Linked DNA regions of Homo sapiens. The protein of the gene in region 1 purifies or fractionates together with the protein of each later gene. This does not show direct contact. Each region holds a gene or a part of one and is shown in the gene's direction. Other genes may lie near its edges. The genes, in order: MAB21L3, KCNAB2, OTUD5 and LRP6.

Region 1 (7,786 bases):
GCAATGGAGACTTCTTTCAAATCACTCAATCCTCTGAAACAGTGGCTGTGACGTGCTTTGATGTATTTTGTGGTTACAGGGGTTTCTGATGATAGATACCTCTGAGGCTCGGCTGGCTGAATGGATGGTAAAAACAAATACCATCTAAGAGACTGAGGCTCAGATAAAAGAAAGGTGAAGCCAAATTTCACCAAAGGCATATGCATAAATAAGGAGGCTGATGCTGTCCCTAACCAGTGTCAGAATATCTAGGTGAAGAGGGAAAAAAAATGGCATTAGCCTTCCCTATGTTTGCATTACTCTGAAAACCAACATTTAGATATTTGGGTGGAATGGAGAAGGATATAGAAAAATAGTTAGGTTTCATTTTTACAGTAGCAAATACAGAAGTTCCCCAACTTGCCATGGCTCAACATATGATTTTTTTACTTTACAAGGGTGCGAAAGTGATACATGTTTAGTAGAACCCATACTTCGAGTACCCATACAACCATTCAATGAATTCCATGAGATATTCAACACTTTATTATAAAATAGGCTTTGTGTTAGATGATTTTGCCCAACTGTAAGTTAATGTAAGTGTTCTGAGCACTTTTAAGGTAGGGTAGGCTAAGCTATGATGTTTGGTAGGTTCGGTGTATTAATACATTTTCAACTTAGAATATTTTCAGCTTCATCAGGATGTGACCTCATCGTAAGTCAAGGAGCATCTATACTACACTTTTTCTTTTTATTCTATGGCTTTTACTTTCAGTTGATCCTCCTGAAAAGAATCTATTAATTTAAAAGAAAAGGTACCCCAAATGCCTTGGGGTTGGGGGAGAAAGAAAAACTCACCAGCAATGAGACTTCTTAGTAATGTTCCGATGCTGGCTAGCTGACTAACCATCTGGTTTTGATGTCAAAACCTTGACGTGCTACAGGCATTGTGATCCTTCACGTGCTACAGACATTGTGAAAGTTGCCACACCAGTTGCAAGGTGCTGGTCAGAGCAACTGCTCACAAATTTCTTGTTTGAACGCTTGTAATGTGCAAACCTTTCTCTTCTCCTTATCCATTTGGTCATTTCCCACCAGGTAAGGTCAGCCTGCTAGGAAACCGCTCTGCAGTTTGGGTTGCTGTGGAAACATCTGCATATCAGGTGGAACTGGAGCTGGTCCCCGCAGTGGAGATCCCCACCACCTGGTCCAAGAAAGCCCGGTGGCCTCGATGTCTGCAGCGCTGGCCTTCCCAAGAGAGAGTGGAGTGCATCAAGGTATCAGTGGGCGGGACCCAGCTTGCCAGAGCAGTGATGCCAACAGCTTAACCAGTCACAGCATTACTGACTGCCAATGAGTTTCCGAAGGAAAGTTGAGGTGTTACTAGATCAGCAGTTCTCAAAGTGTGGGCCCTGCAGCAGCGTCACCTGAGAACTTGTTAGAAATGCAGCTTCCCGAGCCCCCACTCTGGACCTGCTGAATGAGACCCTGTGAACAGGGCCCAGCAATCTGTGTTTTAAGAAGCCCTCTGGGTGATGTGATTCTGATGTATGCTCAAGTTGGAGAACTGCTGTAGGAGAGGAAGTGGGCACCATCTTCTAACTGTCCACATCCAAGGTGGCTTGTGGTCTCCCTGGCACCCCCTTCTCATCCCCACGTAGGATGTGCTGTCTGCCTGGTGACAAGTTCCCCAGACCAGCAGACTGCTTCAGAAATGGCTTTCTACACCAGTGAGCATTGTTCTTCTTATTTCCCAATATTTTTCTCTTTCTTCCAGTCGTTTGGATTTAACTTGTTGGCCTGTTCAAATTATCACTGGCAGCTGAGCTTCCTCCGTGCTGAGCAGGTGTTACTGGAACAGCTGGATGAAGATGGGGGCTGCCGTAGGAAGTGTTTTCAGGTCATGAGGCACCTGAAGGAGGACATCTGGTGCCCAGGGAACAGGCCGGTTATCACGTCCCACCATCTGCAGGTGAGTGTGGGGCAGGTTGGAGAAGACCCAGGGGCAGCTTTGGATAGGTCATTCTTCCTGTGGCCTCTGTAGGGCCTGGCCAGAGCCACTCAGAAGGGGTAGCATGTGTGAAAAATTCAGGATGAGGTTCTAGTATCTATATTTGCCATCCAACAAATTACTACGTATTATGGAAATATGTAAACTAGCACCATATGGGAGTCCACAACACCCCTGCCCAGGGTAAAATTTCCTCCCTCCCTTCCCTTTTCCAATTCTCTTCTATCCCACTTTTCCTCCCCTCTCACTTTTATTTTACCCACCAAACCAACCTGAGTGCTCACTAGGTGCCAGAAACCCTGCTGAGGTTCAGAAATGAATCACAAAATGTGGTTTGTGCCTCACACTTTGATGGCTTTATGTTTGCGCCAGTCTTTAAACCCACTGCAGCCTACGCACACCTCCTCATGCACACAGACCCACTAACACAGAGGGGACCAGGAAATGCAACACAGAGGTTACCACACACGTAGTGCCACACACTTCTTTCCAGGGTCCAAATCACCAGGCAAGGATCTTCCCTTGCTCTGCCAGCCCCTGCCTCTCCTTGCCCTAAACCCAACAGTACACATTCATTCATGCCTTCACTCACTCATTCAGCAAGTGTTTATTGAGATTACTCTGGGCCAGAGGCCTGCCCCAGTACCTGCTGTGGGCTCAACCTCTGCAGGCACAAAGGTGAACAGACACAGATGTGTTTCCTCACTCATGGCACTTCTGGTCTAGCATGGGAGATAGACATGGGTCAGGCAAGCCAGTGGGTGCGTGTACAATCACACAGTGAGGAAGCACTGGAAAGGGAGGAGTATGGCTCTGTGAAGGCTCAGAGCAGCAGAGCCTGACCTGGACTGGGCAGTCAGGGGGCCTCCCTGGAGAGGGGGCCTTTGACCACCCTCCCGACTCCCTCTTTCTCAAATTGTGAACCACACAGAGTGAAGTGTACTCTCATGTAGCAGCTCTGTGCAGCCTGCTGGAGTAGGGAGGTAGGAGACTCTTGCAGGACACCCCAGCCCAGCCTAGCTAGTGTGGGCTGTGAAGCCTAGCTTCAGCCCTCCTCCCTGGCCCCAGAAAGGATGGACTCCCTTTCTACTCAGGTAAGCACAAGTCCCTGGGGCAGTCACCTATCTGTGAGGTGCCTTCCTCACATACCTCTTCCTTCTCTCATTCGATGGACAAAACTGTCTTCCAGCCCCATGTTACTCTGTCTGCTCTAAAGTAACTTATTGAAGGACAGATACCACATTGATCTTGTCCAGCTGGCATGCTGACCTAACTCGATGTTCTTATTCATTGGGAGAAGGTGAACAAAACCCCCATTATCTCTCCCAATGCTTTGTACATAGTAGCGCATTAAATATTTGTTGAGCAAATGAATGAGTGGCTTCACATCTTACTCAACTTTTCTCTTTTTTTCGCACAAAATCACTAACCTTGCTTCACCTTCTTATCTTTCCAATAACCTGTCCATTTTGACCTGCGGAAGAATCTGTTAACATCTCATTCACATGCACTGGGGCTTTTCTCTGGAGTTCCAACATTCTCAACGTGTCCCAAGCACACTTCCCTAAAAACACGCAGGCTGTTCTCCTGGATGGAGGGCATGTGCTTGCAGAAGATACTTTGATTCTTTCTGTGGATTTAGCTTCTCTTGCTTTCCTTTATACAGGCCACACTAGAAGAGGCAGAGCTGAGACGCAAACTCAAGTCTATCTCATATCAAAACCTCATAACCTTAACGATTGACTTCATTACCTCTCAATTAAGATGGATGGAAATACCATTCGGTGACATGAATATTTCAGGCAGGATTGAATGGGGCCACCATGGATCTCCCAGCCATGGCTGCTTGCAAATCTGTACTCCCCACAAGGGCTGACTTCTATTCTGATGGCTCCTAAGTCACCTGGTGGATTTTAAGGCAACTCCTTAAGGATTCTCTGTTTCAATCCTCCCTGACCCACCTGTGTGGCACAATAGGGCATCCTCAAGGATGGGCATTTTTTTTAAGTGGGCTATTTCTGGAGTAAGATAAACAGAAAGTGCTAACTGCCTTTTTCTCTGGTCTTCCATCCTTAGTCCACAGACAGAATTATCTCCCATTTAGGCATCCCTGCCCTTGAAATGAATGTGGCTGGTGATAAATGTGGTGCTAGACACCATCCCAGATGATGACTTGAGTGTGCTGGATCCTTGCCAAATCTTCATTTTGAGGAAAGTGGAAGAGGTTGGGTTGCAAAACAGCATTAGGAAGCTGTGGCACTCAGCCTTGCCTCACCTTAAGTCTGACACTCTCTTACAAGGCCCTCACCTTCTCCCCAAAAAGGCTCTGCCCCAAGACTATTTCATGTGAAGCAAAAGCTTATCTTTTATTGCCTTATTTATTCCTAAAACCCACTCAAAATACATTGGCTTGCTTATAATGAGCTTAACTGCCCCAGTTTGCTTAGGGAGATAAAAGCTTAATTAACAAGAGGAATTAACATTTTTTCTGGTATCTAGGTTATCTTCGCTTGCATGAAATTATCTCTAACTCATTTATTCATAATAACGTAATCTAAATACATAGTTGCTATGAACTTACAACTGCTCTAAAAAATAAAGACTGTATAAAAATAACCCAATATCTAAACCATAACATTAATGGATAATTCATTAATTCACTTATTCAATAAATGTTTATTAACTTCCTCTCATGGGCTAGCCTTTGCTGGGTACTGGGTAGCTTAATAGTGAATAAAAATAGGCATCATTCACTGCTCTCATAAAGTTTATAATCCAGTAGGGGAAATGATAAAATTAATCACATAAATATAAAAACTACTACTGTTGTCGCTGCTTCTTATGAGAAGTACATGACTAAGAGAGTGTGCAATGGGTGTACTAGGGAAATTTGATCTGATGGACAAAGAAGGGAAAGAAGTGTGCCCTATGCAGCCGAAGCAGGATGTGCAAAGGCTCTGTGGTAGAAGGGAGCATGAAATGGCTGGTGTGGCTACATGAAGAGAGCAAGGGAGGACACAGGTCAAGATGAGTCTGGAAAGGAAGGCAGGGACCAAACCTTATAAACCACACCACATTAAGGATGATGTTTTTAGCTAACAAACAATGGGAAGACCTTGAAGTATTTTATTTTATTAATTTTTTTTTTGTTTTTGAGACGGAGTCTCGCTTTGTTGCCCAGGCTGGAGTGCAGCGGCATGATCTTGGCTCACTGCAAGCTCCACCTTCTGGGTTCACGCCATTCTCCTGCCTTAGCCTCCCAAGTAGCTGGGACTACAGGCACCCGCCACCACGCCTGGCTAATTTTTTGTATTTTTAGTAGAGATGGGGTTTCACCGTGTTAGCCAGGATGGGACCTTGAAGTATTTTAGATGAGAAGGGAAGTAGATGTATATTGGCAGCAGTATGGATGGTGATAATTTGGATGGTGGCAAGAACAGGGATGGGCTGATGAGATCGCTACTGCAGAGGTCCAGTGAGATGTGGAGGCAGTGTGGAGGGGGATGGTAGAATAATACTGGAGGTGAAGGTAAATGGGTAGACTCGAGAAATACTTAGACAAGAGGATTACAGGACTTGACTGGGGACGGTAAGGGAGAAGGGCGACTCCTAGGTTTTCGTGTTGCACAACTAGCTAGTTAAGCAACTCTGGAGGCAGATCAGGTTTGTGCAGGAAGAGCAGGGGTTCAGTTTGGGCATGTTGGGACTGAGATAACTTTCAGATACTCAAGAGATACACGATAAGCAGGTCAGAGGAGAAGTCTGGGCTGGAGACACAAATTTGCAAGTCATTCATATGTAGTGAGAATTAGAGCTGCTGTGGTGGAGGCAACATAGAGCTGAGGAATGAATGTAGACTGAGAGGAGAAGAGGGCCTAGAATTGAGCCTCCAGAAACTCCACTTCTCAAAGGCAGGCCAAGGAGTAAAAGCCTGCCAGGGAGGCGCTGTAATGCTAGGAGAAAAAACCCAGAGAGCAGATTGCTTGGAAGTCAAGTGAAGGATGGCTCAGGAGGGAGGGTGTGGGCGAGAGAACCAGGTCTGCTGAAAGGTCAGGTAAGGTGCAGGCTGACAAAGGCCTATTAGATTTAGAAAAGTGGAGATCACTGGGCCTTGACGAGAGGAGCCTTTGAGGATTAATGAGAGAAGAATCCATATTGGAGCAGACTGAGGCAAGAAATGGGAGGAGAGGAAATGACCACAAATAATAGAGCCGACTCTCCAGAGAAGCCTGGATTTGCAGAGGGAAGAGTGAGGGCAGGAGGCAGATGTGGGGTTGGGGTTGCAGGAGAGCTCTCAACTTGTGAAAAGCAGTTGAGGAAGAGGGTAATCAGTCATATACAGTTCCTGGAAGATGGGATCCAGGGCCCTGTGGAGGGATCAGCCCCACAGGCAGAAGAGGCAGAAGCAGGGAGGAAGAGAGGTGGGTGCCGCAGTAGGCAAGATCTGTCTGGTTTGGGAGGATGAGGGGTTCCATTTTCCCCGTAAAGTAGGAGGCAAAGACATTGCCTGGATTAGTGAACATTGGAAATGTTGGAGGAGAGTGAGGGAATAGATTAGGGAAGAGGTGCGGGAGACCAGCTGGTAAACTGAAGGCCCACCTGAAGTTGGGGATTGTGAATTCATGGTAGATCCAGTCTGCCCAGGCAACTCTTTTCTCCCTCCTTCCAAGGCCACATAAGCTCAATAATTGTTTCCAAGCTATCCTCCTCAATTGCCCGAAACAATGTCTGACAGCACTTCTCCCTTCCACAGACTGTGCTCTTTTGGACCTGCGAGAAATATCCCCACTTTAAAGACTGGCAGGTCTTCAGCAAAGCATTTCTGCGCCTGGTGAGGAAACTGCACAAGTGCGTGAGCCAGCACTTCCTGAAACACTATTTCGTCCGGAACAGCAACCTCTTTCAGTGCACCAACCCGACTGAACTGGACACTGTGGCCCAAAAGCTGGCCACCTTCCTGAAGAACCCCCAGATCGGCCCGCCCTGATGGTTGCCCCGGCCTGGGAGGCTCTTGGACATTTTATTCTGGCTTAACATTGTTCTTTGGATGGTTCCTCAGTCAGGTGCCAGGATCCTGCCTAGGAGAAAGGCCACGAATGGCAGCGGAAATTACATCAAACCAGAAACACTTCAGCAGGGGGAAAACTGTGCCCCAGGATGTCTGGCCCAGGCCTCCCTGGAGCCCAGCAAGCATTTCTGCCCTAGCTAATTCTCCTGGAGACAGCTCTCATCAGGCTTCCCCAGGCACAGATTTGGAACTGGTGACAGTTCTGAACTTAGTTTCCCTTGTTCAGGCTGTGATCGTCTCACAGTGAAGATGGAGACAGAACCCCTGGAAGTCTGGACATGAGCCTGCTGGCCAATACTGTGCCCAGCCCACTGATCATGGGCACATTCTCCTGCCATTTGTAAAATGGGAATGTTAACGTGCCTACCTCTGAGCAGGGCTGTGTGCCTATGAAACTGTGCTGGCGCCTTTTCAAGGGGAAGGCATTGGATCAACACAAAGTGTTCCTGGTTGGTTGAGTAGCTGGTGTTTGCATCCTGGATCGGTACCCACAGCACTGACGCAAAATTGCACCTGATGAGTTAGTGAGCCTGTGCTTCCTTGCTGCCCTCCAGCTTCCTTAGCATGTGGGTCAGTGGCTCCTGATGTTCTGTCTGCTTCGCTGGTATTCTCTAAGCAGGGAGGGGAATGGTTTTGATGATAAGTGTAAGTCAAAGATGAAAGTACAACTCTTGGCCTGATCCCAACCATAGCCCTCTCTTTGCTTCCCATGCCATGGGCCATGGATG
Region 2 (7,786 bases), about 110 Mb from region 1:
CTCTCACGACAGAGACCGTCCGCGCCATGACCCACGTCATCAACCAGGGGATGGCCATGTACTGGGGCACGTCACGCTGGAGCTCCATGGAGATCATGGTACGGTGGCCGCGCAGCATGTGTGTGTCCAGGCACAGACTCCCGGCACCGGCTGCGTATGGAGACCCCAAAGCTCTGGCGGGGTCTGTGCCTTTGGTCCCAACTGCACCGATGCCTGGGTGCTAAGGGAGGGACAGGATGGTGGAGTGTGGTGGTTATGTCTGTAGGCCTTGCAGACGGGGATTCTGCATGGATCCCAGCGCTGTGTGGCCCTGGACAAATGGCTTAACGTCTCTGAGCTTGTTTCCCCACCTGTAGAACACATCTGCTAGGTGAGCCCCCATGGGGCCATTCTAAGGAGTCCCTGAGAGAGCCAGTGTGAAGCTCTTAGCAGATGCCCTGGAGCTCAGCAAGCACTCTGGGGTGACAACACCGTCAGCTGTTTCCACTGGGCTCCTGAGACGTGCCCGGTGCTGTTAGGGTCAAGGGTTCCACAGGGACCCTCTCACATGCAATCCTCACCGGTGCCTTTACCAGGTGAGTGCCGCAGGCAGCCCATTTTTCAGATGTGGACACTGTGGCACAGAGAGGTTCAGTAACATGCCAAGGTCACACAGCTTGGGCCAAGATTAACATCCAGGCTGTGTGGTTCAGAGCCTGGGCTGCTCATAACTGGACCCTCCGGCCTGGGGGTCCCACCACCCACCTCCTTTTCCCAGCTCACCAGGGCCTGCCTGGCTCCCAGGGAAGCTATGAGTGTGAGCAGTGGGGAGCCCGGGCTGCAGCTGCTGGGCCAGCCTGCTCCGGGGACACCTTGGTGCCCTCTCCATGGCTGCCCCGGCAGCCTCCCGCCTGCTCACAGGCAAGGGCCCTCGGGGTCCCTTTCTGCCTTCACAGGAGGCCTACTCCGTGGCCCGGCAGTTCAACCTGACCCCGCCCATCTGCGAGCAGGCTGAGTACCACATGTTCCAGCGTGAGAAAGTGGAGGTGCAGCTGCCGGAGCTGTTCCACAAGATAGGTGGGCACCCTCGGGCCCCTCGCCCCGCCCCACCCCACCCCTGCTCTCGGGCCCAGGGCTTGACTCCACCTGCTTTTCCTCTTCAGGAGTGGGCGCCATGACCTGGTCCCCTCTGGCCTGTGGCATTGTTTCTGGCAAGTACGACAGTGGCATCCCACCCTACTCAAGAGCCTCCTTGAAGGTGAAGGAACAGCCTGGTGGGGAGGGACGGGCAGGGGATAGGCATTTTGGACGGGTGGGACCTTTGGGCCGACTGCTTTGGTGCTGGGCAGGGGTTCCGGGAGCTGCAGCTGTTCCCACCTCGGTCTGCTGGGGGCGGGCTCCTTGGCGTGAGAACATGGAGCCCCTCCTGGCCTGATCCCATGTGTAGAGGGGCTGCCCAGCCTGTGGCACAGGCCCAAGTGGAGAGGCCCTTTCACATCCCCCCCCCTGCCCCCACCACATCCCCCCATCTCTACCCCCTACCACATCCCCCACCTCTGCCCCCCACCACAGCCCAGCATTCAGAACTCTGAGACCCCTGGGCCTGGGCTCCGAGATGGGGGCTGCAAAGCCACATGGAGGTGACCCTGGGAGAGGCGCCCCTCCCCACCACACAACCTCTGAGTGGGGACTCAGGAGGGTCCCCAGACTGCAGGATCTGGAGAACAAGGAGCAGGCCAAGAAAGTCTGCCCAGCCAGCAGTCTCAGCACTGGGGCCCACAGCCCTGGGTTCCAGGGCAACGTGGCCTGGCCCCCGACTCCTCCCATCCCATGGCAAGGTCAGGGCCCCCCTCCAGGAGGCCCTGCAATCCTCTGGGGGGGATGGCCAGGGGAGAGAGCACTCCCCTAGGGCCAGGAGGTTCTTCTGGGCCACGGGTGGCAGCCGAGACCCCAGGCTGCCAAGTTTCCTAAGAGAAGGAAGGCCAGCACCTCGCCTCCTTGTCCTGACTTGGGGTTGGGCCAGCACCACAGTCTTTGCACTTCAGAGCCTGGACAGGCCCCGCTCATCCACCAGCCCGTGCCCGGCCCACTGCCCACTCTCCCCTACTTGAGAGGCCTGGGGCAGGGGCACTGCCCTGGCTTCAAGATGAGAAGAGCCCCTATGAGGGAGAAGGGTCCAGAAGGAATGAGCCCATCGGCCCCCTGCACGTGGGGGTCCAGGTGACCTGCTCTCATCTGTAGCTGTGCTGCTCCCCTCCCCCGCAACCAGGGCTACCAGTGGCTGAAGGACAAGATCCTCAGTGAGGAGGGCCGGCGCCAGCAAGCCAAGCTGAAGGAGCTGCAGGCCATCGCCGAGCGCCTGGGCTGCACCCTGCCCCAGCTGGCCATAGGTAACGGTGGGGTCGCCATGGGGCCAGTGCCCCTGGGGAGAACCTGCCCCAGCTGGCCGTAGGTAACAGGGTGGGGTTGCCATGGGGCCAGTGTCTCCGGGGAGAGAGGGAAGGGATCCCTGGACATCATCCCCCAGCCAGCCTCGGGTAATCGGGCTCTAAGGGGCATGGTTGGGACCCCATGCCTCTAGGGGGATGTCAGGAGTCCCTGAGGACCTGGGCCACCCCCTCCATCTGCCAGCCATAGGTAATGGGGCTCCCGCTTTCATGGGAAGAGGATGGGGAGCGCTAAGCACTTGGGCCACCTCTCCATCAGGGAGCAGCGGGCTCCCCCATGCCTCCTCCAGCCACCTCTTAGACAAAGCCCGTGCCCAGCACTGCAGGGCTTCCTAGACCCCCTCAGACCCCCAGACCAAGATGCTGGGTCTCTCGGCCCAGTCAGAGGCAAGGCAGACCCATCAGGGGCCCCTGTGGTGGGTGTTTCTCCCTCACCTTGGGTCTCGCCGCCACAGCCTGGTGCCTGAGGAATGAGGGAGTCAGCTCCGTGCTCCTGGGGGCCTCCAATGCGGACCAGCTCATGGAGAACATTGGGGCAATACAGGTAAGAGTGAGAGGCCCTGCTGGGCAGAGGGCCCATCCCAGCCCGAGCCCCGTCCAGTGCATCCTCCCAGGCTCGTCCTGCGTGCCAGGCTCTGTTCTAGGCACTCAGGATGCGCCCGTGAACCATCAGAGTTGTGCTCCTGGAGAGCTTGCTTTCCAGCAGGAACAGACATGAACACTAACTGCACGAAACAAGGAGGTTAGAATGTGTGTCAGGGTGGACGAGCGCTGTAGGAGAGAAGCCAGAGATAAAGGGAGGGAGCTGGGGCCAGGGACGGTGGCGCTGCAGACTCAGGTTCAAGGGGGCCTGTCAGGTGGGCTTGTTGAGAAGGTGGTGCTTGAGCAGTCTTGAGAGATGCGGAGTAAGTCACGCAAATGCCTGCGGGAAGAACCTTCCACCAGCAGGAAGAGTTGATGCAAAGGCCCAAAAAGGCCTGGAGCAGAGGGGCAGATCCTGAGAGGCACGAAACACCTCCAGGGACTTCTGAGTGAGACGGGAGCCGTGGCAAAATTGTGGGCAGAGGAGGGCGAGCTGCAGCTCAGCCTGGAAAGGGAGGCTGCTCTCCGGCTGCTCCATCGGGGAGGCTTTGGGAAGCAAAAGTCGAAGCAGAGAGCCCTGGTGGGAAGTGGCAGCTGCGGGTCCGAGACGGGAGTGGTGGTTGGATCCTGGATGTTTGGGAAGGTGGGGCCCCCGGGACTGGCTGACAAACTGGATGTGGGGGTGAGAAGGCGAGGTGGAAGTCGGTCCCCGGGTGTGTCACCCGGAAGGGTGGCGGTGCTGTATGCTGAGGCAGGCGCAGCTGGAAAAAGCAGTCACGGACATGGAAGTCCAGCATTTGGCCTGGAGTTTCCATTTTATGTCACTGCTGCCACCACCCTTCAGGAAGGTTCTAGGGCACCTTGACATTTGAGAGGGAGTGCACAGACCCAGGCATGCTTCCTCTCTGCCCCAAACCTTCTGAAACACAAAAGCAGCGTGGCCTCCATCTGCCTCAGATGGAGCCCAGATGTGATGGGGCAACCCGGGCCTGGCCAGCCGACCATCTGGAAGAGCCTGGCCCCACCTCCTCCCCAGGCCAGGCCCGTCTTGTTGGTGGGATTCTGATTTGTTGTTGTTCTTGCACGCAGGTCCTTCCGAAACTGTCATCTTCCATTATCCACGAGATTGATAGTATTTTGGGCAATAAACCCTACAGCAAAAAGGACTACAGATCCTAAGCCGCCCCCGCCCGCCTGCTCGGACAGTTTCCGTTCCCTCCTAGTCTCTGTTCGCTCGCTTAAGCTGTTTTGAAGCCAAGTGAAGAGTGTGGTTTGCATCCAAGAGAAAACACCACACTGTGATGTCATCGGGAAATGATCTCCCAAGTCGCTGCCAGACACCACCCACTGCTTCGCCGGACAATGTCGAAGTCCAGTCTGTGCCGGGGAAGGCACTGGTTAGGAAGGATGTTCAAACGGTCCCACCCAAGCCTGTCACCTCTGCTCATCCTCCAAGACCACCCAGCTTTCTCCCAGCCACAGCCAAGATTCCCAAAGTCAAGGCCCAAAGATTTCCAAGGTTCCCAAAGTCAAGGCCAGGCCAAGGCCTGGTTGGGTCCTTGGGGCGGGCAGGGCCAGCCTCTCCTCTGCTGAGAATCCCCACTTGGTGTAGGGGGAGAGGGGAAAGGGGTCTGGCCCATCGAGGGGCCCCTTCTGCCAGGGCCTTGGTTGCTGGGGCAGGGCCTCCCCACTGGGGGTCTTCCTCCACCTCCCACTTTCCAAGGGCTCCAGGAATCTGGGGCCTGACCACAGATTCCTCTCCCATCCTTTTCTGCTCCAACCTGCCCCACTGGGTCCCGGCAGGGGCCATGCCTACCAAGCTCGAGCTGGCCCTTGACCCCCACCCACCCCCACCCTTGCTGGCAGGGGCAGGGACCCCAGGGGGATTGACTCTGCAGTTTGGGAGCCACAAAAAGCGTAGCGGTGTGATTTCTAGCTCAGCCTCCCACCGTCTTCCTCCTACACACCAATGATGAGCCTCATGCCAGTGAGGCCCGGAGCGCTTGGGAGGGGTCCCAGTGGGGCAGGCCCCTCTGTCTGGCCACCCCTCTGTCCTGGCCCCGGAAGGCCCTGTGGTCATGTGCTCCTAGCTGCACGGTGGCTGCTGGCCACACCACGGCAAGTGGCAGCAGGGGCCGGCCCTGTGCACAAGGATGCACTCCTCTCGGCCCCTGTAGACTTTCTCTAAAGCCGCCCGCCAGCCCAGGCCGCTGCTCTGCACCGAGCTGGTGGGCTTGGGTTTTGTGGAGCGCATGCTTGGACCCTTTCAGTAAGGAAGGGTCTTTGGGGTTTTCTGTGCCCATGACTTGGGGGCTGCACCCCCACAGCACCCCCACAATGTAGGAAAAGACCTCAGGGAACCTCTCCCTGGAAAGACGGGCAGGGCTGGTTAGCCCCTCCCACTGCCTGACACCTGGGACAGGCTGGGCAGAGGGGAGAGAGGGCAGGACAGGCCAGAGTGACGCCCCCGTGCAGCTTGGGCCGGAGGGCAAGGGATGCCAGTAAGTCTGCAGGTGCGGGGTGCCACCTACAGGCCCAGGCCTGTGTCCCAAGCAGTACCCAGGCTTTGCAGACCACGCGGGGCAGGGCTCCACTGAAGCCACCCCCACCCCTCGCCAGCTAGCTCCATAGGGAAGCCTGTGTCTCCTGCCCCCAGGGCGCACCCTCAGTGCAGGCACCTCTGTTCCCGCTTTGCCCCTGGAGGAGCCACTATTCCAGAAGGCTCCACCCTGCCGTCCTGCGGGAGCCTGCTGTCCAGTCCTGGCCGGGCCAAGGCCTGGGAAACTGTGAAAGTCAGAAAGGCCAGCGGGGAGAGGCTGGGGCGAGGGGAGGAGGGGGATCAGCTTCTGCTATTACCGACCCCCCTTCATGCTGCCCCTGGCGCCTAGAACCCTTGCCCCTCCTCATAGACCAAGTCCCGGGGGTCTCCACTCAGTCCTGCTGCCTGCTTCACCAGAAGCAGCCCTGTGAGTGTGGGGTGGGGAAGTCCCTTCCCAACGGAGGTCCCAGCCTATGGCCCTGGGCCCAGGTGGGGGTCGCCTGCTTCCTTCCCGGACAGGGTCCTGCAGTGGCCAATGGTGCCAGAGGGCAGGTGGCCCACCCTCGCCATCAGGGAGGGTGGCTGGCCCCATCCCCACTGCCACCCAGCCCCACCCACTGTTGGAAGAGGGACCAGCGCGAGGTGGTGCCCAGGGTGGGCACTGCTGCTTAATGCGAGGCACACCTGGGGCAGCTGAGCCCCCAAAGGCTGCGGGTTTGCCAAACACAGAGAGGCCAGGCCCCAGTGTCAGGATGCAGTCAGCCTCTGGCGCAGCTCTTTCCACGACCTGGTTCCTGGATGTCCTGCTTGCTCCACACCCATCTACAGGGAGGATGTGAGGGGGCTCTGCCTCCTAGGGCCAGGTCCCCCCTCTCGGGAGGAGGTATTGGGTAGGACCATCCAAGAAAGGGCAGAAGACCAAGGGCAGTCGGGGTCTAGAAAGGAGGGCGCTGGCCCTGCTGGACGCTTCGGAGCCCCCACTGTTTCCCACTCAGCTTTGTGCTCAGATCCCAGGTCCCAAGGAGTGACAGGGGCTTCCTCCCACCTTCTGTCCTTGTCCAGTCATGTAAATAATGTGCTTTTTCTCTCCCCGAGTCTTTTTTTTTAAACCTACCGTGGTTCCTCAGCTAACTGCATTCCCTACCCAGGCAGAGACTGTCCTATGCCTCGAGCTTCCAAACGAGACTCAGACCGCGACACAGCCACCGTATTTATGGAATGACAAAATAAATAAAGCCCAAACCCATCGGTCTCTGTGACTTTTTGCTCCTCTCATTTCCTCAGGGTCAGGGCTGGGCCAGGGTGACACGGGAGGGGAGGAAAAGGCTGCCAGCAGCAGGGCCTGGGGCATCCCCCAAACCGGAGCCTGCAGCCAAGGGCAGGTGGGTTGGAAAGGGCCCGTGGAGAGAGAGCGGGGACAGAGAATGGGGACAGGGTGGTCAGAAGACCTGTCCCCCATCTCTCCCAAGCGATTCAGCCAAGGGAGGGTGCGTGCCTCCCCTGCCGCCCCCAACACACACATTCTCTTTCACCAACTCTGAGGGCCCAAAGCTGCTTGCTGGGAGGCTGCTGTCCCTCTGGGGACCTGGCTGGCTGCTGTTCTCATAAGGACAGAGGTCCAGGCCTGGGGAAGCTCTCATGGTATGTGTTTGGGGTACAGGTGAGAGGGGCCTCACCCCAGCACACCCCTGTTTCGGGCTCCCCTCCTTCCCAGTGAGCCCCTGCACCCGTGAAATGACCATCCCAGGCAAGAGAAGGCTTCCGGACACGCCCCCACCCCCCACCACTCCTCCCTGGCCCCAGCCCCCACCCCCATTCTAAATCTTGAATCTTAAAAAGAAAAAGCCTCTGATTAAATCCTTTCCCAAAGGATTTATTAAAACACAGAAAACCAAAACATACACACAGAGTACAAAGTAAAGGTGATTGTGTTGGCTACAGCCTCTGTCCAGCCTCCCGTGGGCGAAGACCAGACAAGCCACGGCTCACAGGGGAGCCTGGCTTCCAAAGCTGGACCCGCCCCCGCCGGGGCCACCCTGGCTGGGACTCCTGGCGCGCCTTGCACCCAGCCCAGGGCCCTCCCTTTGCCAGCCTGGGGCTGTGCCTGGGGAAAGGGGTCGGCCCCCTCTTAGCTGGGCCTGGGCCGGTGGAGTCTGCTCCCTCCACACCCCTGAACTCAGACCCCACGGGCCAGTGGGGACCCTCCCTTCCTCTCCAGGGGTGCTTGGGCTCCAATCGC
Region 3 (7,786 bases), on another chromosome or scaffold:
TTCAAGCAGTGTTCAGCGTCCTTGGCTGGTGCTGAGCCCTTGGGTGTGTTTCTTTTAACAACTTTAATGAGATGTAATTCATGTACCATACTATTCACCTCTTTGAAGTGTACAGTTCAGTGGCTTTTAGTATATTCACAGATTTGTGCGTCCATCACATCACTACAGTCCATTTTAGAACATTTTCATCACCTTAAAGAGAAATCCAGCACTCTTTAGCTATGATCCCCCAATTTCCTCATCCCTTTCCAGCCTCTGGCAACCACTAATCTACTTTCTGGCTTGATTGATTTGTCTGTTCTGGATGTTTCATGTAAATGGAATAATAGAATATGCAGTTGTTTGTTACTTGGCTTTTTTCACTTAGCATAATATGTTCAAGGCTTATCCATGTTGTAGCATACATCAGTGCTTCATTCCTTTCTATTACTGAATAACAGGACCTTGGGTTTTTTTGTTTTTTGGTTTTTGTTTTTGTTTTTGTTTTTTTTTTAAGGTGGAGTCTTGCTCTGCTGCCCAGGCTGGAGTGCAGTGGCGCAATCTCAGGTCGCTGCAACCTCCGGCTTCCGGGTTCAAGTGATTCTCCTGCCTCAGCCTCCCAAGTAGCTGGGGCTACAGGCATCTGCCACCACACCCGGCTAATTTTTGTATATTTAGTAGAGATGGGGTTTCACCATGTTGGCAAAGCTGGTCTCCTGAACTCCTGACCTCAGGTGATCTGCCTGCCTTGGCCTCCCAAAGTGCTGGGATTACAGGTGTGAGTCACCGCACCCTGCCAATCTTAGAGGTTTTTAATCCCCCTGCCCTCAGTGGCCTAGCCAAATGTTGGGGCCTTGCTCTTCTCCCCTTCTGCCCTGGAGGGCTTGTGTTGGTCCTTAGAGAGTAGTGTGTCTATGTTCCTCGTTGGATGGGTTGCCTGTGTGTGTTTTTTTTTGAGATGGAGTCTCACTCTGTCCCCCAGGCTGGAGTGTAGTGGCGCGATCTTGGCTCACTGCAACCTCCACCTCCCAGGTTCACACCATTCTCCTGCCTCAGCCTCCCGAGTAGCTGGAACTACAGGTGCCTGCCACCTCGTCTGGCTAATATTTTTGTATTTTTAGTAGAGACAGGGATTCACTGTGTTAGCCAGGATGATCTCGATCTCCTGACTTCGTGATCCGCCCACCTCGGCCTCCCAAAGTGCTGGGATTACAGGCGTGAGCCACCACGCCTGGCCCCCTGTGTTTTGTCCATGGAGCCAGGCTAGTGTTCCTGGGTGCTTTGCTGGAGGGGGTGGTCTTGGCACCAGGGCTGCTGGGACAGAGCTGTGAGTCACAGAATGCTAAACACCTTTTGACCATAGGCTCTGGGAAGACATCTGTCCATGAACTGCCACTGCTGCTGCCATCTTTTGCCCCCCCACCCCACCCCCACTTCAGTGGCAGCTCATCCATCCATAGGCAGGGTCAGTAGTTTCCCAGGGTGAGAAGGGAGATTCCAGGCCCCTGCTGCCTTAATTCTAACCTCCCACCCTGGAGGATGGTAGGCAGGTGGACCTTGCAGAGCGGGATCCATGCCATATTGTCTCACACCTGTGAGGCACTAGGGAACAGACACCAAGGAGTGCTACCAAGGGGGGTGTGTTAGTTTCCTGTGGCTGTTGTGACAAATGTTACCACAGACTGGGTGGTTTAAAACAACAGAAGTTGGCCGGGTGCGGTGGCTCACCCCTGTAATCCCAGCACTTTGGGAGGCCGAGGCGGGTGGATCACGAGGTCAGGAGTTCAAGACCAGCCTGGCCAAGATAGTAAAACCCCATCTCTACTAAAAATATAAAAATTAGCTGGGTGTGGTGGTGGGTGCCTGTAATCCCAGCTACTCGGGAGGCTGAGGCAGAGAATTGCTTGAACCCAGGAGACGGATTGGAGGTTGCAGTGAGGTGGGGGTTGCAGTAAGCTGAGATTGCGCCACTGCACTCCAGCCTGGGTGACAGAGCGAGACTCCATCTCAAAAAAAAAAAAAAAAAAAAAAAGAGAGAGAGAAGTTTATTCTGTCACAATTCTGGAGGCCAGAAGTCCACAATCAGTTTCACTGCATCCAAATCAAAGTGTTGGCAGGGCCACACTCCTTCTGGAAGCTCTCAGGGAGAATTTAGACCTTCTCTAGCCTCTCGTGGCTGCCAACATTCCTTGGTTTATGACTGCATCATTCTAATCTCTGCCTCCATCTTCACCATCGCCTTCTCTGTATATGTGGTTTCCTTTTCTGTCTGTATCAAATTTCCCTCTGTCTCTCTTTTATAAGGACACTTGTGATTGCATTTAGGTCCTACCTGATACTCTAAGATAACCCCCCATCTCCAGATTTAATAATGTAAGTTAATTACATCTGCAAACACTTTTTTTCTTTTCTCTTCTCTTTTTTTTTTTTTTTTTGAGGTGGAATCTCACTCTGTCACCCAGGCGCAGTCTCGGCTCACCGCAACCTCCGCCTCCTGGGTTCAAGCTATTCTCCTGCCTCACCCTCCTGAGTAGCTGGGATTGCAGGCGCCCACCACCACACCTGGCTAATTTTTGTATTTTTAGTAGAGATGGGGTTTTGCCATGTTGGCCAGGCTGGTTTCAAACTCCTGACCTTAGTTGATCCACCCGCCTCGGCCTCCCAAAGTGCTGGGATTACAGGCATGAGCCACTGTGCCCGGGCTTTTCTTTTCTTTTCAGACAGTGCTGGCCTCTGTCACCCAGGCTGGAGTGCAGTGGCGTAATCTTGGCTCACTGCACCCTCCACTTCCTGGACTCAAGTGATCCTCCAGCCTCAGCCTCCTGAGTAGCTGGGACCACAGGTGCGAGCCACCATGCCCGGTTAATTTTTGGTGTTTATTTATTTGTTTTTGAGATGGAGTCTCGCTGTGTCACCCAGGCTGGAGTGCAGTGGTGCTATCTCGGCTCACTGCAACCTTCGCCTCCCAGGTTCCAGCGATTCTCCTGCCTCAGCCTCCTGAGTAGTTGGGATTACAGGCGCCTGCTACCATGACCAGCTAATTTTTGTATTTTTAGTAGAGATAGGGTTTCACCATGTTGGCCAGGCTGGTCTCGAACTCCTGACCTCAGGTGATCCACCCGCCTCGGCCTCCCAGAGTGCCGCGATTACAGGCGTGAATCACCGTACCTGGCCTGTATTTTTTGTAGAGATGAGATTTCACCATGTTGCCCAGGCTAGTCTTGAACTCTTGAGCTCAAAGCGATCTGCCTGCCTTAGCCTCCCAAAGTGCTGGGATTGCAGGCATGAGCCACGACGCCTGGCCCTACCTTTTTCATTATAAGGTAACATTTACAAGTTCCAGGGGGGTTAGGGTTTGATATCTTTGCGTGGCTATTAATCAGCCTACTAGAGAGGCTTTTTTCCCTCCTGGGGAAGGGAAGGGAACTCATTAAGTGGTCTCTTACTGGGCAAAGCCCTGTAATATTTGAGTCTGCCCAGCATCCCTATTATTGGGAGGCTTGGTATCCCCATTCACAGATTGGAAAACTGTGGCTCAGAGCAGTTCATCATCACATGGCTAATAATTGGTGGAGCTAGATTGGAACCTAAGTCAGTTGGGTTCCACAGCCTGCTCCAACTTCACTTGGGCCCTTAGACCACTAGGTTACAGAATCTTGCCTCAGCTCCTGGGATCCTCTGGTGTTAGGGAGCTTTACTCAGCCTTTTTGTGGAGGCTCAAAGATATGGAGGGATTTTCCCATAGGCTCAGCGATGAGTTTGCAAGGTTCACAATCTCCTCAGGCCAGGGCATTGTTGGAGCTTAAACTTATCTATGGCTGAGCTATCCCCTACCCCCCACCCCTACTAGCCCTTCCTGAGCAACATTTTCTCCCCAAAAGGAGAAAGAGAAGGGCCAGAGCCCAAACTCCTCAGGCTGCTGATGACAAAGCCAGTGGGTGGCTAGCAGTCCAGCCTCTAGATCCAAGCCTGGATGCCAGTTTGACTGCCCCAGGACCCAAACCCTGCAGTGCGAGGGGCCTATTCAGGTCTCTTTCATGTTTAGAGACAAACCAGGATATTCTGTGGATGGGCTGCAAGGTATGTCCTCCATGCTGTGGCTCGTGGGGGCCTTCCCTGTTGCCTCTACACTAGGCTTTGCTGGTATCCAAACTCCAGCTCCTTTCTCTTTCTGCCTTTGTTTTTTTGTTTTTTGTTTTGTTTTTGTTTTTGTTTTTGAGACATAGTCTTGCTCTGTTGCCCAGGCTGGCTGGGGTGCAATGGTGCCATCTCGGCTCACTGCAACCTCCACCTCCCGAGTTCAAGCGATTCTCCTGTCTCAGCCTCCCAAGTAACTGGGATTACAGGCACACGCCACCACGCCCTGCTAATTTTTTGTATTTTCAGTAGAGACAAGGCTTCGCCATGTCGGCCAGGCTGGTCTTAAACTCCTAACCTCAGATGATCCTTCCGCCTTGGCCTCCCAAAGTGCTGGGATTACAGGCGTGAGCCACCGTGTCTGGCCTCCTTTCTGCCTTTGTAAAGTGAGGGTAATGTTTCCTGCCACCTGGGCTGTGGTCAGGAAAATTAAACGAGGTCACCCTTTGCATCTGGCATGGGGCAGGTATTCAGTTAATATGAGTTCATCTTTCTTCCTGGTCCTCCCTGCTTACCTGCCTAGTACTACCCAGAACTTTAGCTCTACTGAATTCATTGCTGGGCTCCAGGCATTCCTGGTACTTCGTGGCAGAAGTGACTTCATTTCTCATCCAGTTAACAAGCATTTTTGGAGGTCTTGGTGTTTTAATCCTTTGGTCAGGTGGCACCTCCTCTCAGGTGCTAGCCTTAATGACTGTGTTTCTTTTTTTCTTTTTTTTTTTTTTCCTTGAGACAGAGTTTTGCTCTTATTGCCCAGGCTGGAGTGCAATGGTGCGATCTTGGCTCACCACAACCTCCGCCTCCCGGGTTCAAGCGATTCTCCTGCCTCAGCCTCCCGAGTAGCTGGGATTACAGGCATGCACCACCACACCTGGCTAATTTTGTATTTTTCAGTAGAGACGGGGTTTCTCCATGTTGGTCAGGCTGGTCTCAAACTCCCGACCTCAGGTGATCCGCCCACCTCAGCCTCCCAAAGTTCTGGGATTACAGGTGTGAACCACCGTGCCTGGCCCAATGACTGTGTTTCTTTTCTTTTCTTCTTTTTTTTGAGACAGAGTCTCACTCTGTCGCCTAGGCTAGAATACAGTGGTATGATCCCGGCTCACTGCAACTTCTGTCTCCCAGGTTCAAGCGATTCTTCTCCCTCAGCCTCCTGATTTAGCTGGGATTACAGGCATGCACCACCATGCCCAGTTAATTTTTTTTTGTATTTTTTAGTAGAAACAAGGTTTTACCATGTTGGCCAGGCTGGTCTTGAACTCTTGATCTCAAGTGATCCACCTGCCTCGGCCTCCCAAAGTGCTGGGATTACAGGCGAGAGCCACTTCGCCCAGCCTCTTTCTGTTTCACAACACCTGGCATTTACATTTTTCACAGCCTTGTTCATACCTTGTGGTGGTTACCTGTTTCCCTACCCCTCTGCTAAGTAGTTTGTGAGCTTATCAAGAGTGGAGACTAAGTCTGATTCATTTCACTGTCCTCACTGCCCAGCCCAGTATCTTACTTAGTAGCTACCTGGTAAGTCTTTCTTGAATGGATAAGTAGGAGCCCCTCTCCTGTTTGATCTCCTTTTCTCCTCTCTTTTTCCCCTCTCTCCAAAGCCAGGAAGTCGCTGTGTTCCCTTCTTTTTAAGAACCTATTCTTGTGTCAGGTTTGGGACTATAGTTGTGGTTGCACCATCCCTGCTGGAGACCCCTGGCTGGGGCAGGCCCATGACTCTGGGAGATGGCTGACCATGTGTGGCCAGGATGGACTTGGGCATAACTGGCTGGAGTGTGTTAATCCACAGGCTTGGGGGCAAGGAGGGACACCTGGACCACTGGAATGTTGTGCACAAACAGGAGTCCTTGTGCTGCGCATGGAAGCTCATTAAGGGCTTCCAGGTGTCTTTGTCATCTCTAGAAATCCAGCCACATTTTCCTGGGGTGTGGGCCCTGATGATGGGACTGGCTGGGTATTCCCTTGTCACCTCTTCCTCCCCTCCTGTCCCGCTACTCACCTGGGACTTTCTGAGGGTCTCTCAGTTGTGCATAATCTCTGTGCTGATCTCCTCCCCTTCTGTGATTGGCGACAACTTCCCCTAGTATATGGTACGTTATTTACAAAGCTTCTTTAGGTCCTGAAACTCCTCACAGCTCTGTCCGGTAGATCAACATATCCCCCATTCTATAGGAAACTGAGAGTGATAACAGACAGCAAGTGTGTGGCAAAGCTGGGGTTGGAACCCAGAGCTCTTGCGTTCCAAACCTTGTGCTTACAACTTTGCCAGAGATGCTTCTCCTCTGGCTTTCTTAGGGGATGGGTTCCACCCCTTGCTTGAGCTGGGGAAAAATGGCCTTACGGATAGGTGGGCCCCTATGTCTGGTCTCTAATACCCCAGATCCTATAAATCCCTGGGCAGGCCTGTGTCCACAAGGAGCAGGCTTGGGATCCTGTAGTTTGCAGCCTTGTTGCTAGGTCAGGCTGGCTGCTTCTGGTAGCCAGCAGAGGGCGTGAGGGGCCCAGGAAAGGTCTGCTGCTTCTGGTTGGTTTTGTTTTGAAATGAAAATTATGTTTTAAGAGGTTATATGGTCATTATTTTTTTAATTAAAAAATAGGCATTTGTACAGGTTCATTTAAGTTGAACCTTCGTGGTGCCAGGTGTGCTTTGGAATTTAGGAAAAAAACAATTTATAAAACTTACCTGGTGTGTATACTTTGTGTTACATAACACCTCCAGCAGGGTCTGAGGCAGCACCTCATAATCAAACACCTGAATGTTTTCTGCATTGAAATATTTGAATATTTACCCCAAGTGGGATAAATAGATTCTTGTCAGTTCTGGTCAGGTTATGATGCCAAATGAATTAGATAAAGACTTTTGGGCCGGGCACAGTGGCTCATGTCTGTAATCCCAGCACTTTGGGAGGCCGAGGTGGGTGGATCACGAGATCAGGAGATCGAGACCATCCTGGCTAACATGGTGAAACCCCGTCTCTACTAAAAATACAAAAAATTAGCCAGGCATGGTGGCAGGCGCCTGTAGTCCCAGCTAGTCGGGAGGCTGAGGCAGGAGAATGGCATGAACCCGGGAGGCAGAGCTTGCAGTGAGCCGAGATAGTGCCACTGCACTCCGGCCTGGGCAAAAGAGTGAGACTGCATCTCAAAAAAAAAAAAAAAAAAAAAAGACTTGATTTTCAAAGCTTTTTGGGTTTAGTGTAACTTTATAAAAGGGAAAGTGCAATAAAATCGCTGATAACACCAGGACTTAGGGATATTTTGCTGTCTAGCCTTCCCAATTTTGTGTACGTGTGTTTGTATACATACATATGTATATATGTGTAGATATCTGTTAAATGTGTTCAGTCACAGATGAGAACATTGTTTGCACACTTTTGCCTTCTAGAGTATATCTCTTTTTTTTTTTTTTGAGACAGAGTTTCGCTCTTGTTGCCCAGGCTGGAACGCAATGGGGTGATCTTAGCTCACCGCAACCTCTTACCTCCTGGGTTCGAACGATTCTCCTGCCTAAGCCTCCCATGTAGCTGGGATTACAGGCATGCACCACCACGCCTGACTACTTTTGTATTTTTATTAGAGACGGGGTTTCTCCATGTTGGTCAGGCTGGTCTCGAACTCCCGACCTCAGGTGATCCACCCACCTTGGCCTCCCAAAGTGCTGGGATTACAG
Region 4 (7,786 bases), on another chromosome or scaffold:
ATAGGTCGAGCGTTTCAGCATTGGGAGCCTTCTGAGCTTCAGCCCATAATAAAATAAAACATTGCCCTTGTAACCTCTGGTATTCACGGCTTGCCCCTATTTTCGGAGTATGCAAGTGTACAGTTGGCACTAAGTAGGGAAATTCATCCTCGTGTGAAGAGGAGCCGGTCCTGGGACCAAAATGATAATTTGCTCTGCACCCCTGGGGACTGCTTGGCACTTTGGTAAATTGCATAGGCTGTTCGAGATAATTTGCTCTGGGAATCGCTTGAATTCGATGGCACTATGATGTTTTGAATTGGACTGCAAAGCTGACACATGCTCTGTGACTTTTGTGACAGTTCACAAAGATTTTTGACTGGCCCGTCGGCAGCTCTTCTCAAACTATTTAGTGTTGAACTTGAGATGGCTGTGATGGCTGTGGAGCATTTACCAGCAGAGGAATTTAAGTACTGCTCGATACGGTGGCTTGTAGTTTTGGTTTGGTAAAGTTCTTACTGGCGTTCATAGTAAGTTCTTTTCAGGCATGTGACCGCTGGTCGCTGGAGATTTTTAGGTGTTAACAAGCTAAACTTTTGTTAAGTTCTCCAAACTAATTTAAGTTTACAGAACACTAATAGTAACTAATAGTCTGTGACAGGTGTATATTTTTGCGTGTACTGTGTATATGTATTTCGGATGAGAATGATTGAGTTTTTTTTTGGAGGAGGAGAAATACTTTCTTCAGTTACTCTGTAGTAATGCAGCATTGTGTTTGCATGTTATATTACTTGATACTCTAAGCATATTACAAAGTTTTCCCACATGTAAACCCCGGAAAGGTAGTGTTCATTAGATTTTTGTGGCAGAAATTTTAATGAAGTGTTACGTACTGGAGAGGTTTCATAAGTATATACTTATTTTATTATTGGCATACTCTATTGAAAGGGGTTTTGCTGTAGCTGTTAGAAACAACTATATTTGACATAAGAATATGTATGTATTTTAAGACATAAGGTTAATAGGGCTGACAAATATGAGAACCAGCTGATTGGTTAGAGTCGTGGGAAAACTTATAACTTGGGATGTTTCTGGTTGTCTAGTTGTATTTCTTGGAGGAGAAGCGTGTGATGTAAATGCCGTTTGTTTAACACCAGCTTTGAGACCAGAGCTGGGTTTGTTCATTATTGGAATTTAGATAGGTTGCACTTATTTATGTAACAAGACCTGGAAGAGGTAATAGTTTAAATTGTCTCGTTTCCACTAGCAAAGTTTTCAGAAGTGGAGCTCTCGTTTTAAATGTGGCGAAATATGGTGTAAGGTGGTCTTCTAATATGTAACAGTACTGTACTTAGCTGTGAGTACATATTATTTGAAGTAAAACTGTCTTTTGATGTAAAATATTTTTGTTCATAATTTAGAATTAATTCATTCTTTGAGAATGTCATCCTCTGTTATAGTAAAGATATTTAGTCAACCTTGGACTCCAAGGAGAAAAATCTGATTGATTTGTTGCATTTAGGTCATTTTTTTCCCCCACAAAGAATTGGGGCTTTAACATTGGCTGGGTGTGATGGGGTATGTGAGAGTCTGGGAGACCTTCTGTCCTGTAGCCCTGTTGAATTAGTAGCAGAAAGCCAGGGAATACTGTTAGTGCTGTGTCCCTATCTCTATCATCACATGACAAGGTATAAAGGAAAGATTTGGGAATTTCAATACTAAAATCTTGGATTTAAAGCCCAAGTGTCACAACTTCATAACTTTGTGGTTCTGGTCTAGTCCGCTTCTCTAGGTCTCAGTTTCTTTACTGGTAGTGTGGATAATGATACCTGACTAGTTTGCAGGGTTATTGGGTGTTTTAAATGAAATAATATGGAGTACCTTGTTAATGTTACTTTTTGCTATAATTTTTGCTTGTTCAGGGACATATCCTCAAATGCTTTCATGATTTGAGATTTAATTTGTATAACGTTCACAATTTTTTTTTTTTTAAAGAGACAAAGTCTTGCTTCATCACTCAGTCTGGGGTGCAGTGGTGTAATCACAGCTCATTGCAGTCTCAAAGTCTTGGGCTTAAGTGATCCTCCTGCTTCATCCTCCCAAAGCTCTGAACTATAGGCACGTGCCACTATGCCCCCAATTTTTTGTAGATATGGGGTTGGTGTGGGGGTGTCTTGATATGTTGCCCAGGCTGGTCTCCAACTCCTGGCCTCAAGTGATCCTCTCAAAGTGCTGGGATTACAGGTTACAGGTGTGAGCCACCATGCTTGGCCAGGTTCACGAATTCCTATTTTTTTTTTGGAGGTAGGGTCTTGCTCTGTTGCCTAGGCTGGAGTGCAGTGGCATGATCGCTGCTCACTGCAGCCTGGACCTCCTGTGTTCATGTGATCTTCCCACCTCAGCCTCCCAAGTAGCTGGGACCACAGTTGTGTGCCATAACACTTGGCTAATTTTTATAGAGCCAGAGTTTTGCTATGTTGCCCAGGATGGTCTTAAACTCCTGGGCTCAAGTGATCCTCCCACCTCCGCCTCTCGGAGTTCTGGGATTACAGGTGCAGATTCACACATTCTTTTTTTTTTTTTTGAGACGGATTCTTGCTCTGTTGCCCAGGCTGGAGTGCATTGGTGTGATCTCCGCTCACTGCAAGCTCTGCCTGCCGGGTTCACGCCTTTCTCCTGCCTCAGCCTCCTGAGTAGCTGGGACTCATTTTTTTGTATTTTTTAGTAGAGACGGGGTTTCACTGTGTTAGCCAGGATGGTCTCCATCTCCTGACCTCGTGATCCGCCCACCTCGGCCTCCCAAAGTCCTGGAATTACAGGCGTGAGCCACCACGCCCGGCCAGATTCACACATTCTTTTTTTTTTTTTAAAGACAGAGTTTCGCTCTTGTTGCTCAGGCTAGAGTGCAATGGCATGATCTCGGCTCACTGCAACCTCCGCCTCCCGGGTTCAAGCGATACTCCTACCTCAACCTCCTGAGTAGCTGGAATTACAGGCATGCACCACCATGCCCAGCTAATTTTTTTTTTTTTTTTGTATTTTTAGTAGAGATGGGGTTTCTCCTTGTTGGTCAGGCTGGTCTCGAACTCCCGACCTCAGGTGATCTGCCCATCTCGGCCTCCCAAAGTGCTGGGATTACAGGTGTGAGCCACCACGCCTGGCCCAGATTCACACATTCTTAAAAGTGAAAGGGATCTTGGTCGTTTGAGCCTCACCAGTTTATTTGTAAGTGGGGAAACTCAGATTCAGAGATACTGTAATTTAATAAAGGTAGGTTAATTAAAGATGGGGCAGGGATTTATTATTCATTCTTTTAGCAAATATGTATGGAATACCTCCTATATGTCAGCCTCTGGTACTGATGGTGAGTAAAACAATGTGTTTCCTAATCTAACGGGCCTCACAGTTTAGGTTGCCATCCTTACCATTTTCTTAGTTCCATTCGGATACTGATGAGAAAAAATAATATCTGATCTTCTGCTGGAAGTATTTTTGATAAGAATATAGGTTTTGGAATACCATCGGTGTGTGTAATCTGTGAAATACTATTTCTTAGCTTGCTTTTTTTTTTTTTTTTGAGACGGAGTCTCGCTCTGTCGCTCAGGCTGAAGTGCAGTGCCGCGATCTTGGCTCACTGCAATCTCTGCCTCCTTGGTTCAAGCGATTCTCCTGTCTCAGCCTCCTGAGTAGCTGAGACTACAGGTGCCTGCCACCATGCCTGACTTATTTTTGTATTTTTGTATTTTTTTGGTTTTTGAGACGGTATCTCACCCTGTCGCCCAGGCTGGAGTGCAGTGGCATGATCTCAGCTCACTGCAACCTCTCCCTCCTGGGTTCAAGCAATTCTCCTGTTTCAGCCTCCTGAGTAGCTGGGACCACAGGCTCACACCACCATGCCCGGATAATTTTTATATTTTTAGTAGAGACGGGCTTTCACCATATTGGTCAGGATGATCTTGAACTCCTGACCTCAAGTTATCCACCTGCCTTGACCTCCCAAAGTGCTGGGATTACAGGTGTGAGCCACTGTGCCCGGCCTAATTTTTGTATTTTTAGTAGAGATGGGGTTTCACCATATTGGTCAGGCTGGTCTCGAACTCCTGACCTCAGGTGATCCACCCACCTCTGCCTCCCAAAGTGTTGGGATTACAGGCGTGAGCCACCGCGCCTGGCCTTTTTAGCTTTTTTTGAGGAGGCTTGTTATATAAAAATTCTTCGTTACTTTTTTTTGTTTTGGTGGGCTGGTAAATATTGTTGGAACAAACCACTAATGTTTTGCATCTTGTATTTCTGTAGAAGCGATCCTTTCTTCCTTTAAAATCAGGTGTTATAAAGTCTTGGGGAAGTAGAACAAATTTTGGAGTGGCAATCAGGAGAATTAAGTTATGGTTCTAAATTTGCTGTGTAACCTTGAGTGATCTCTGTACACTTTATTTGGAGATTAGAATTCATGTTAACACATTAAGGGTTCTGAAAAGTCCTGAGGTAAAGAGACCGGTTTTAACTTTGTTTAACCTATTATTTTCCAAACTTGTCAAGTATTACATTGATATTTGATGACAGTTTCATATAGTTAATTTGATACTGTCATTCCTGTTTACTTACCTGGCTTCAGGTTTGCTCATTTGGCTAAACAATAATTTGTCTGGTTATTAAATTTTAAGGTTTTAGCTTGTTATTATCAGAAGGGCTAATAGTGATTTCCTGTGGTTCAATTTTTTTTTTTTTTTTTGAGACGGAGTCTTGCTCTGTCGCCCAGGCTGGAGTGCAGCGGCGTGATCTCAGCTCACTACAAGCTCCGCCTCCCGGGTTCACGCCATTCTCCTGCCTCAGCCTATAGGCGCCCGCCACCACGCCCGATTAATTTTTTGTATTTTTAGTAGAGATGGGGTTTCACCGTGTTAGCCAGGATGGTCTCGATCTCCTGATCTCGTGATCCGCCCGCCTCGGCCTCCCAAACTGTTGGGATTACAGGCGTGAGCCACCGCGCCCGGCCATGATTCAATTTTTAAGAGATTTTTTTCTTTGCTTTAATTGGAAGTTTTTCCATTTGCTGTACTGAACTACTGTGTCCTTATATATGCTTTGGCTGTCAGAAAGGACTGTTTTAAATATCAAAGGAGATTCTGGGAAGGGATATATTAATGGAAAATATTTTATGAGAACGTATATTTTTTGTTTAAATATTTTGCGCATACTGGAAAAATAATGTTTAGTGCTATTTAGGCCATGGGTAACTACTCTGAGAAAGATTATTTTCATCGTAGAAATTCTATTGAAAGTTTACATTTAGAGAAGATTATATGGAAGGTACTATAGCAGAAAGACATGGCTTGTTGTTAAACAGGCCAAGTTAAACTCTTCTGCCGCTTTGTGTTCCTTTGGACAAGTTATTTCCTTTCCTGTTAGGTGGGGATATAACTTGCAAGACTTCTGTGAGAACTGACGAAATGTTTGTAAAGGGGTAGTAGAACGCACAGTCAATAGTAGACATTGAATAAATGGTTGCTATTATTAAGATGGCCGAATTAAAAGAAACATTATACTCTGGAAAGACTGGTAAAACATTTTAAGTGTCGCTATGTCCTGGGCACTGTTTTTGGCAGTTGATAGTTTTAGGCCAGTGGTTTTGGAATTTTTTTTGATTCTTCTGCAACTGGAATAAAAGCTCCATAAAATACTTTTACTTATGGAAATTTCTGTTTTGTTTGATATAAAACGGAATGACACTAAATTTTTTTTCTTTTTTTTTTTTTTGAGACGGAGTCTTGCTCAGTCGCCCAGGCTGGAGTGCAGTGGCGTAATCTCGGCTCACTGCAAGCTCCGCCCCCCGGGTTCACGCCATTCTCCTGCCTCAGCCTCCCGAGTAGCTGGGACTGCAGGCCCCGCCAACACGCCCGGCTAATTTTTTTTGTATTTTAGTGGAGACGGGGTTTCACCATGTTAGCCAGGTTGGTCTCCATCTCCTGACCTGGTGATCCAGCCGCCTCGGCCTCCCAAAGTGCTGGGATTACAGGCGTGAACCACCGCGCCTGGCCTAAATTTATTTCTAAAGGATTGCAGCCATAACTATTTTAGGTGATGATTATTATAAATAAGCTACAGAACAGACAGTTCAAATGATTGTGATACTTATTAAAGAGTTAAGCATGGGCAAAATAATTTTATCAAGACATCTAATTGAGAAATTGCATTATTTGTTTACAACAATTATTCAGTTGGTGGATTTCTTTCTGCAGGATGGCTGAATGCTATACTGAGTTTCTGCATTGCATGTTTTCACTTCGGATAAGGGTGTTTATCTTCTATAAAGTAAGCCTCACTTCAGTGAATAAAACACTGTTTTATATGAGTAACTTTGAAATTTAGTCAAATATACAGACTAGGCAATCTAAGAACAGGCTGTTTGCTCTTAAAATTATTTATTTTAAAATACAATTTGTCAGTACATAAATGCAAGGAAACAAGGTTATTTGGTATTATTAACATATGCTTTTGTTTCTCAAGCTGTTCGTGTTTGCGGCAGTGAGTATTCTCACTAAAGGTTCAAGCTGTTCGGGTGTGAGGCTAGAAACTTTTAAAATGTGCTTGGACTCTTCGGTGAAAATTATTGATACTTTGATGCTGTGATCCTTTTAGCGGTATCATAACTTGTAGTTTCTGTAATATCTTGCTTGGAAGGACCTTGTATAAGTGCTTAAATATTTTGGAACTAATTTCAGGAGGAGATTGGGGATGCAAAATGAAATTATATTTTTAGGCAGAAAACTACATTAAGTTATGTAAGTTATTAACACCAGGCCTAAAGTTATTGATGAGACTCTCAATAAAAATAACATGACCAGCAGTAGTCTTTTTTTTTTTTTTTTTTTGAGATGGAGTCTCGCTCTGTCACCCAGGCTGGAGTGCCGTGCCATGATCTTGGCTCACTGTGACATCTGCCTCCTGGGTTCAAGTGATTCTCCTGTCTCAGCCTCCCAAGTAGCTGGGATTAGTAGGCGCCCACTATCATGCCTACCTAATTTTTGTGTTTTTAGTAGAGATGGGGTTTCACCATGTTGGCCAGGCTGGTCTCGAACTCCTGACCTCAGGTGGTCCACCCGCTTTGGCCTTCCAAAGTGCTGGGCTTACAGGCGTGAGCCTGCTGCACACAGCTGTCATTTTTTTTTTCCCAAGAAAATAGTCACCCAAATATTGGAAACCTACCTTTATCAAATTATGTATGTTTAACCAGGAGGCTATTTTCTCTAATGGTCTTAGTCATTGTTTTATCACTACAAGACCCAAACTACAAGTAAAGGACTGCAAGGGATAGGAGTCTTCCTCACTAATGATTAGCTTTATTGGTACGTATAATTTAAGTACTGTATATCCATATATCCAGTTTAAAGATACTATGTTTTGCAAGTCTGAGAAAGGTGACGAGTGAACTTCATTACCATGAATTCTTAGCTACACATTATATTGTCTTTATTTGTAACCTTCTAGATTTATGCTAATGCAGAAATAGCTCTTTGATGAAAAGTTTTTGAAGAGTAGACCTTTTTCCCCTTTATATGCACCATGTACCAGAGGTTTGCACATATTGAGCACTGTAAATTTTACATTTAAAGTAATATAAAAAGATGTGAATTTTTATGACATTTATTTGGAATGCCATTTTGTGTTTTGACTCAATCGTTCATTAGCTATAGTTAAATTATAAATTTGTAACGATTACAAAGATTTCTTAGTCTGGGTCATGGTGGCTCACACCTGTAATCCCATCTCTTTAGGAGGCCAAGGCGAGAGGATCACTTGAGGTCAG

What was found.
Region 2: the proteins of MAB21L3 (region 1) and KCNAB2 purify together in Homo sapiens (co-immunoprecipitation; one large-scale study listed by IntAct). This does not show direct contact.
Region 3: the proteins of MAB21L3 (region 1) and OTUD5 purify together in Homo sapiens (co-immunoprecipitation; one large-scale study listed by IntAct). This does not show direct contact.
Region 4: the proteins of MAB21L3 (region 1) and LRP6 purify together in Homo sapiens (co-immunoprecipitation; one large-scale study listed by IntAct). This does not show direct contact.

Annotation. Positions count from the first base shown.
Region 1 is NC_000001.11:116,126,389-116,134,174, forward strand, and holds part of MAB21L3 (protein mab-21-like 3), read left to right. Parts: intron 1-1,077; coding exon 1,078-1,256; intron 1,257-1,756; coding exon 1,757-1,951; intron 1,952-6,743; coding exon 6,744-6,977; 3' UTR 6,978-7,786.
Region 2 is NC_000001.11:6,094,388-6,102,173, forward strand, and holds the end of KCNAB2 (voltage-gated potassium channel subunit beta-2), read left to right. Parts: intron 1-12; coding exon 13-98; intron 99-935; coding exon 936-1,056; intron 1,057-1,142; coding exon 1,143-1,237; intron 1,238-2,248; coding exon 2,249-2,369; intron 2,370-2,881; coding exon 2,882-2,970; coding exon of another isoform or gene 2,971-3,144; exon of another isoform or gene 3,145-3,168; intron 3,169-4,097; coding exon 4,098-4,187; 3' UTR 4,188-6,793; downstream 6,794-7,786.
Region 3 is NC_000023.11:48,944,763-48,952,548, reverse strand, and holds part of OTUD5 (OTU domain-containing protein 5), read left to right. Parts: intron 1-7,786. UniProt on the Homo sapiens protein: Deubiquitinating enzyme that functions as a negative regulator of the innate immune system. Has peptidase activity towards 'Lys-48'- and 'Lys-63'-linked polyubiquitin chains. Can also cleave 'Lys-11'-linked ubiquitin chains (in vitro).
Region 4 is NC_000012.12:12,258,328-12,266,113, reverse strand, and holds part of LRP6 (low-density lipoprotein receptor-related protein 6 isoform b precursor), read left to right. Parts: intron 1-7,786. UniProt on the Homo sapiens protein: Component of the Wnt-Fzd-LRP5-LRP6 complex that triggers beta-catenin signaling through inducing aggregation of receptor-ligand complexes into ribosome-sized signalosomes.